3 separate regions of the Homo sapiens genome follow, and regions 1 and 2 are each linked to region 3. The links come from fine-mapping of genetic effects on gene expression. A gene starts in region 3. Each other region holds a variant in brackets. All regions are shown on one strand. Distances are from middle to middle.

Region 1 (2,843 bases), 58 kb before region 3:
CATGCCTGTAATCCCAGCACTCTGGGAGGCCAAGGCAGGTGGGTCACTTGAAGCCAGGAGTTCGAGACCAGCCTGGCCAGCATGGTGAAACCGCATCTCTACTAAAAATATAAAAATTAGCCAGGCGTGGTGGCGTACACCTCTAATCCCAGCTACTCCAGTGGCTGAGGCAGGAGAATCACTTGAACCCAGGAGGCAGTGGTTGCAGTGAGCCGAGAGGGCACCATTGCACTCTTGCCTGGGCAACAGAGCGACTGAGACTCCATCTCAGGAAAAAAAAAAATCTGAGAGTACTATCATACTGGTCTTTAAGAAAAAAAATTCTGAGAGAAAGTGATTTCAACCTAGACTTTTATACTGGGTCAAGCTATCACTCACATGTGTAAGTAAAATAAAGACATGTTAAATACTCAGAAGTGTTATTGCCTAAAGACTCCTTGAAGATTTTCTTTAGCAAAATTTAATAAACAAAGAAAGAAGACCACCAAGCAAGGAAGAAGGCAAACCCACTATCATTGAGAATCAGAAGAAACAACAGATTTAGACAACAACCCTATCATCACCCCCTACAAGGACAGCAGATGTTGAAAATACAGAATAGCTAGGTATAGAATGTTTACAAAAACAAATAATGCAATTATAAGGATAAACATGGTTCACACCTGTAATCCCAGCACTTTGGGAAACCAAAGTGGGAAGATCGCTTGAGCCCAGAGTTTAAGACCAACCTAGGCAACATAGCGAGACCCTGTCTCCACACACACACAAAAAATTTCTTTTAATTAGCTAGGTATGGTCGTGCATGCCTGTAGTCCCAGCTACTCAGGAGGTTGAGGTGGGAGGATGGCTTAAGCCCAGGAGGTGGAGGTTGCAGTGAGCCAAGAAAGTGCCACCGCACTCCAGCCTGGGCAACAGAGCCAGACCCTGTCAAAAAAAAAAAAAAAAAAGACACCCATCTGATTGGAGTCCTAAAGGATGAAATTGGAGAGAATAGAAAGAAGCAATATTTAAAGAGATGATGACTGAGAATTTTCAGAGCTCATGAAAATGATGAATGCAAAGATCCATGAAACACAATGTATCCCAAATAGGATAAGGAAAAATAAAATCATGCCTTCTCACATCGTAGTGAATCTTTAGGGCATGAATATAAATAGAAGATCTGGAAAGCAGAGAAAAAACACAGAAGACCTAACAAAGAATGATAATTAGAATAGCAGCAGATCTCACAACAATGAAGCCAGAAGACAGTGGAATTACTCATATAAAATGATAAGAAAAGGCTGGGTGCAGTGGCTCATGCCTGTAATCCCAGCACTTCAGGAGGCCAAGGCGAGCAGATCACTTGAGGTCGGGAGTTCAAGACCAGCCTGGCCAACATGGTGAAACCCCATCTCTACTAAAAATAAAAAAAAAAATAAAAAAAATTAGCCAGACATGGTGGTGGATGCCTGTAATCCCAGCTACTCAGGAGGCTGAG[T/G]CAGGAGAATCACTTGAACCTGGGAGGCAGAGGTTGCAGTGAGCCGAGATCGTGCCACTGCACTTCAACCTGGGTGACACAATGAGTACGACTTCACCTCAAAAAAAAAAATAAATAAATAAATAAAATACTATTCACCCAAAATTGTGTATTCAGCAAAACAATCACTCAATACCAATAGGGAAAATGATAACATTTATAAGAAACAAGCCCAGGGGAAGTTTACAAAGAGAACTTCTCTAAAAGAACTTATAAAGGATTTAAAGATATAGGTAAATGATCCCCCAAAAAAGAGAAATGCAAAAAAGGGAAAATGAACAAAAAGAATGGTAACATAAAGGTAAGTCCAGACAAAGCATAGTCTCAATAAAATAATAAAGGAGTCTAATTTTTAGGGGTTAAAAAAAGAAAGAACTGAAATGAGTAAGTTGAGAGGAGAAAAACATGAATGAAAAAAGGTTATTAGAATGGCTACTAAAATGATAATATAAGAGTTATCAATAAGTCAGAAGAAGGAAGTAAGTTTTTATTAGTAAGTCAGAAGGAGGAACAGTAAGTCAGAAGGAGGAAGATCAGAATTAAAGTGATCTAAAATTATCTTACTGACGAGAAGGGAGGATAAAACATCATTCATTATTAAATATACTTATTAAAATGTATAGATAAGCCACTAAAATAAATAAATTATAGAAATGCAAACAAGTAAAAGGAAAAAAAAGTGTAATAAATAGGGGAAAACTGAGCTGAGCATGGCAGCTCACTCTTCTAATCCCAGTGCTTTGGGAGGCCAATGCAGGAGGATCACTTGAAGCCAAGAGTTCAAGAGCAGCCTGGACAATATAACTAGGCCCTGTTTCTACAAAAAAAAAAAAAAAAAAAAAAATTTTAATTAGCTAGGCTTCATAATGTGCACATCTGTAGTCCTAGCTATTTGGGAGGCTGAGGCAGAAGCATCACTTGAACCCAGAAGTTCAATGCTGCAGTGAGCTATGATCACACCATTGTACTCCAACCTGAGTGACGGAGTGAGACCCCATCAGAGGTGGGGTCAAAAAATAGTGAAAGAAACCATCCCCCAAAAGACAAAAAACCAGCACTTGAGGTTATGACCAGTCGAATAAGATAAGGAAAATAAATTAGAAGCATAATGATTAGAAACAAGGAAATAAAACTCTCATTTTTTTTACTCTCTTTTTTTTTTTTTTTGAGACAGAGTCTCGCTCTGTCACCCAGGCTGTAGTGCAGCGGTGCGATCTTGGCTCACTGCAAGCTCCGCCTCCCGGGTTCATGCCATTCTCCTGCCTCAGCCTCCTGAGTAGCTGGGACTACAGGCGCCCGCCGTCATGCCCGGCTAAAACTCTCA
Region 2 (2,500 bases), 910 kb after region 3:
CCCTCCTGGGAATGTGGTGGAAATACCCACCTTGAAAGGTAGAGAGTGGAATCGTTGCCCTGAGCACCTGGGTGTGGTCGCAGCATCCCCCGTGAGGCCTCCCAACCTGCAGCTGCCTCCTGCGTGCGCATCTGCCACTGCTGGCTTTAGGGCCAGGGCCAGGCCCAGCTGGAGGTCCAAGCTGGAGCCCTGGGCAGTGTCCAGTGCACTGTGGCCTCAAAGTGCCCAGCCATGGTTTAGTACTCCAGCTGGCAAGGCCCTGGGTTCAAACCCTGCTCTGAATTTGTCCAGTTGCTTCCCCATGGTGTCATTTGGTTTGTTCCTCTGTCCCTTGTGTTCCCTGAGAGGTTACCTCTCAAAGCTTGGTTAGATCAGATTAAACGTCTTTGGCCAAAGAACATCATAGGGAAGGTTGGGGCCTTCCTGCTGCATCATCTCATACCATTCTACTGTCACACTTCTGGTGGAGGCTTTTAATGATCCAGTTTCCTGGACTCCTCCCCAGAGGCTCTGATCCTGCCACGCTGGTGTTGGAGCCTGGGTGTCTGTATTTTTCAAAACCACCCCAAGTGATCTGCCGTAGTGTATAGCCTGCATCCCTGACCCCAGTAGCCAGCTGGTCAGGGACTGTCCTTGGTTTTCTGAAGAGCATAGAATAAGAGAGTGGATGGGACAGTCCAGGTAGGTGCCAGCCCTGGTGGCCAGTGCTATCAGGTGTGAGGCAGGGAGGGTGGCCTCTGGGCCCCCATAAAGAGGAGAATGGGCTTCCTCAGGGCAGCTCCAGGTTCAGGTAAGAGTCCTTGCAAGACCAGGAGTGCCCCACGCACTGTGCTCCCGGCGTCCAGCATAAGGCCTGGCCCAGCGTGAATGTTTATTGAATAAAGACACACACCAGGCTGGTGGCTCTCTGAGGAGCCCTGGGGAGCTGCTCTAAGAGTGAGCTCCCAGCCAAGCAGCACAGCTTTGTGTGTTCCCCACTGGGCTGCTTCTAAGATTCAAACAAAGGACTCCCAAACTGTGGAGCTAGCAGCTGTGTTAAAAGGCCCAGAGAGCCAGCAGGGCCATGGCCATCACCTGCCCTCAGCTCGCCGTGGAGACAGCCTGTGGGATCTGGGAGAGACGAAGGAAAGGACTGGGCACTCAGTGGGGCTGCTGAGGGCAGGGAAAGGAGGCAGGGAGGTCCTCGCAGGGAGGTCCTCGCAGGGCCACTGCACCTGCTGAAGCAGGTGCTAGATTCTACATGGAAACGAGTGAAAGAATCCCTCCTCTCAAAAAACTCACCATCAATGGAGTCGGTGGACAATTCACTTGAGTGCATTGAAGGTTACCTGTGACGGATGTATAAGAGCTGGGGAAATGGCCAGAGGGAACAATTTGAATTGGAGACATTAAAAGGGGATTTAAACATGGGACCTTGAGGGATGAATAGAAGTCTGGAGTCAGAAGCGAACAAGAGGGCTGGGCAGGCTATGTCTTGTCTTTTACCAGAACTGGCTTGAAGGGTATAGCAATGTGGGGACCCAGCAAA[G/A]TCCTGGTGTGGGAACCAGCAGACTTGGCTGCTCAGAACGGCAGCCTAACTCTGTAAGGTTCTCATTTCCCAATCTGTAAAATGGGAGACTGACTTAGGGTTTGGAGGGGTCAGGAAGGGGAGAAATGTTACAAGGTTAAAATGAACTAAAGATGCAAACATGGCTTAGGAAAAATTTGAATTAGAATTCCACTTAGTGGAGTGGGAGGCAAAGAAACAGATGGCCAAGCTCCAGGAGGAAAAGCTGGCCAAGCTGAGCTCAACTTCAAGGCCCAGCTCGAATGTCACCTCTTTGAAGGGGACTTCTTTGCCTTCTCCCACTTCCTTCCCCTCAGCACACCTATTCCTTGAAGTCCCAAGTGGGACTTCTCACACTCTGCAACTGACTGGTCACCTGCACTGAGGTGGGGTCACTGAGGAGGGTGGAGGCTACATCTTTTTTTTTTTTTTTTTTCTGAGGCAGAGTCTCACTCTGTTGCCCAGGCTGGAGTGCAGTGGCACAATCTCGGCTCACTGAAACCTCTGCCTCCCAGGTTCAAGCGATTCTCCTGTCTCAGCCTCCAGGGTAGCTGTGATTACAGGTGCCCACCACCACGCCTGGTTAATTTTTTCTGTTTTTAGTAGAGACAGGCGTTTCGCCATGTTGGCCAGGCTGGTCTCGAACTCCTGACTTCAGTTGATCTGCCTGCCTTGGCCTCCCAAAGTGCCGGGAATACAGGCGTGAGCCACCGCGCCCGGCCGAGGCTACATCTCATACATCTTGGGCACATAGTATGCAGGTACTGAATGAGGCCCAGCCTTCAGATGATCAGGTCTGGGGCACTTCAAGAACGATCTGCGTGCTATGAGAGAGACAAGCTCTGGCTGGGAGTCAGCAGGCCTGGGCTGTGCTCTCTGCACTGCCTCCAACCAGTGGAGGAACAGCAGGGAAGGCACATCGCTTCCCTGGGCCTTAATTTCCCCAAGGAGCTG
Region 3 (2,500 bases):
GGGGAACCCTACGAGGGGGCAGGAATGACTCAGGCTCCCGAAAGCAGGAGTAGGCAGTGAGGGGGTGCGTGTGTACTTCTCTCGGGCCTGGTTATGAATGTGTGTCTGGGGTTGGCGTATGGGGGGAGTGTGCGTCTGTGAATGAGTGTAGGTGTGTCAGTCAATGAGTGCCTTCGGGGTCGCAGGGGCGTCGGGACGGAGTGGGGCAGCGACCAGGAGGCTGGTGTGTGCACGCGTGCGTGAGCGCGTGGGCAGGGTGGCACGTCCGGGCCGCGTGTCACGTGAGACGCGAGGGGACTGTCCGAGGTGTGTGCGCGCGCTGGAGCGTTATGTGCACCCCGGAGAGGGGGCTCGGCAGGGAGCTGTGAGTTCAGACAGCGGGGCCCCCAGGTCGGGCTGCAGGAGCTTGGGGTGCAAAGGGCTCCGGCGCAGGCTCCAATTCAATCCACCCCCCCCCCTCCGCCACCCACAGGCCCATCTAAGTGCCAGGGAAACGCGAGTGACTGGGTCTGAGTAAGGAGTGTGTGCGCGCGTTTGTAGGGCCGGCCCCACCTTTAACCCTCTCCTTCCCACGCCATCCCCTCCCCCCAGCTCCGCGCGCCAGCGCTTACCACACCCCCCCAGACCCCCGCCCGCCCCTCTGCGCCCACCCCGCTGGCGGGGCTCTGTCCCCGAGGCCGCACCACAAATGCCTCCTTCCTCCGCATTCCTCTCTGGGCCCAGCGCCCGGGTGAGCGCAATGGAAGGCGGCTGGGGAAGGGGTGAGTGCCTCTGTCGGCCCGGGCCCCTCCTGCGGCCCCTTTAAGAGCCGCCCTTTAAACCCCTTTCGCTCGGCCGACAGAAATTGTCGCCCCTCCCCTCTCGGGGGCCGAGACCACGCAGCCCCCTCCCCCACAACCGGCCGAGCCCTGGGCCCCCGGACACCCTCTCGGGGCCGGGGAAGGGGCTCCGGGAGTGGCGCGGCCTGAGGAACGGCGGCGGAGGGGGACGCGAGGGGATGAGGGCGGCCGACACCGGACCCCTTCCCTCCCAGCCATCCCGTGCGGCTGCCAGCCGCCCTCCTGCCGCCTCCTCCTGCCCACCCCGCGACCCCTGGGGCCCAGCCCGGGCGCCGCTCCCCTCCCCCAGCCCTAGCCCCAGCCGGGGACTCACAGCTGCTGCCGGTTCCTGCTTGTAATCGCAGCTTACCCCCTCCGCCTGCTCCCTCCCCAAACGGGCACCAGTGCCCCCACCCCCCTGGTACCGCGCTCTGCTCCTCGCCCTGTCGCCGCCGCCGGGTCTCTCCCCACCCCCCACCCCTCCCCCCAACCCCCTCCCTCCCGTCCGCCCCGCTCCTCCTCCGCCGCCGCCGCCTCCTCCGCCTCCTCCTCCCCGGCTGCTCCGGGTTTCTCCAGCTGGGAAGGCGCCCCGGACCCCGCCGCTGCCACCACCACGTGGCGAGAGGCGGCGGCCCCTACGGTGCGGCCCTTCCTGGCAGCGCGCCCGGAGCCCACCGGCTCCCTGCGGCGCCAGCGGCCCGCGCTGGCGCCCCCTCCCCGACGCCTCCCGGCGCAGTGTGGCGTGGTGGCGTGTGTTGGGGGCGTCTGCGGTCAGTGCAGGGGCCCGGCTGATGCTTTGGTTGTTTTGGTTGTTTAGTTATGGGCTGTATATTTGGGGAGGAAGTGGGGCTATTTATCTGGCTTTTTTTTTTTTTTTTTGGTCTTTGCGCTTTTGAGAAGGAAATCATTAGACCTGCTCTTCGTTGCTCTTGGTAAAAGGGGCATTGCTGCGATAAATACATTGAACATAGGGTACAGAGAGATTAAAGCTGTAACTTCTTTGGAAGTGAGAGTAAACTAAGGAGGTCAAAGATTCATTCATGAAGAAGGACAGCCATCTCCCTCCCCACACACCACTCCCCGGCCACCCTCAAGTACCCACAGGTCAGGGAAATGAAGAAACAACAGATGTCACCCTGTGCACAAAGATTATTTGAGCACCTGCCAAACTGCTGGGCAAGAGAAACAAGTTTTTTGCTACTTTCCTGCTGTGTGACCTTGGGCAAGTTACCTTAACCTTTCTAAGCTGGAGATCATGCCCCACCTAAGCACTCTCATGGAGGAAGAATGGGGATCAGAACTAAATACAGCAGCCTGCGAATGCTCAGGAAGTGTTAACGATGTCATTTTGAGTATTGCCTGGTGGATTAAATAATGTGGACAGAGGCATGGTCAGCCTAGCTGCAGGTAGAGAATGATCAGGGGAACCCTGGAGCACTCTGGCTGAAGAGCATCCTCTGTGGACAGGGAGGCAAAGCCCGGAAGCAGGGGATAAGCTGGGCGGGGGCTTTTGGCAGATTCAGCCTTAGCTGCGAAGACTGCTGGGAACCTGAGCCTACCTTTTTGGCTCCTGAGGTGGGATGGGGGTGGGAATCTCCGAGGGGGAGGATGGAAGGAAAAGGTTTCTTGCTCTCTCTGAGCTTTGAAAAGCAGCAGCTGCCATCTTTCCTCACTGCTGGGAG

What was found. PIP is the estimated chance that this variant, and not a neighbour inherited with it, causes the effect.
Region 1: its variant is fine-mapped to the expression of TBKBP1 in sun-exposed skin (GTEx, PIP 0.90).
Region 2: its variant is fine-mapped to the expression of TBKBP1 in sigmoid colon (GTEx, PIP 0.99).

Annotation. Positions count from the first base shown.
Region 1 is chr17:47,750,466-47,753,308 of GRCh38, reverse strand. No RefSeq gene overlaps it. Among named protein-coding and RNA genes, the nearest start is that of TBX21, 19 kb to the right of the region's middle. The variant T/G (reference allele first, on the strand shown) is at 1,481.
Region 2 is chr17:46,787,440-46,789,939 of GRCh38, reverse strand. All of the region lies in intron 1 of WNT3 (Wnt family member 3), which reads left to right. It also overlaps a transcript of LRRC37A2 not described here. Among named protein-coding and RNA genes, the nearest start is that of WNT3, 30 kb to the left of the region's middle. The variant G/A (reference allele first, on the strand shown) is at 1,529.
Region 3 is chr17:47,692,847-47,695,346 of GRCh38, reverse strand. TBKBP1 (TBK1 binding protein 1) reads right to left here and starts at 1,186. Exons shown (of 10, transcript NM_001394755.1): 1 at 1,153-1,186. RefSeq lists enhancers at 1-70, 71-750, 751-1,431 and silencers at 528-587, 838-967.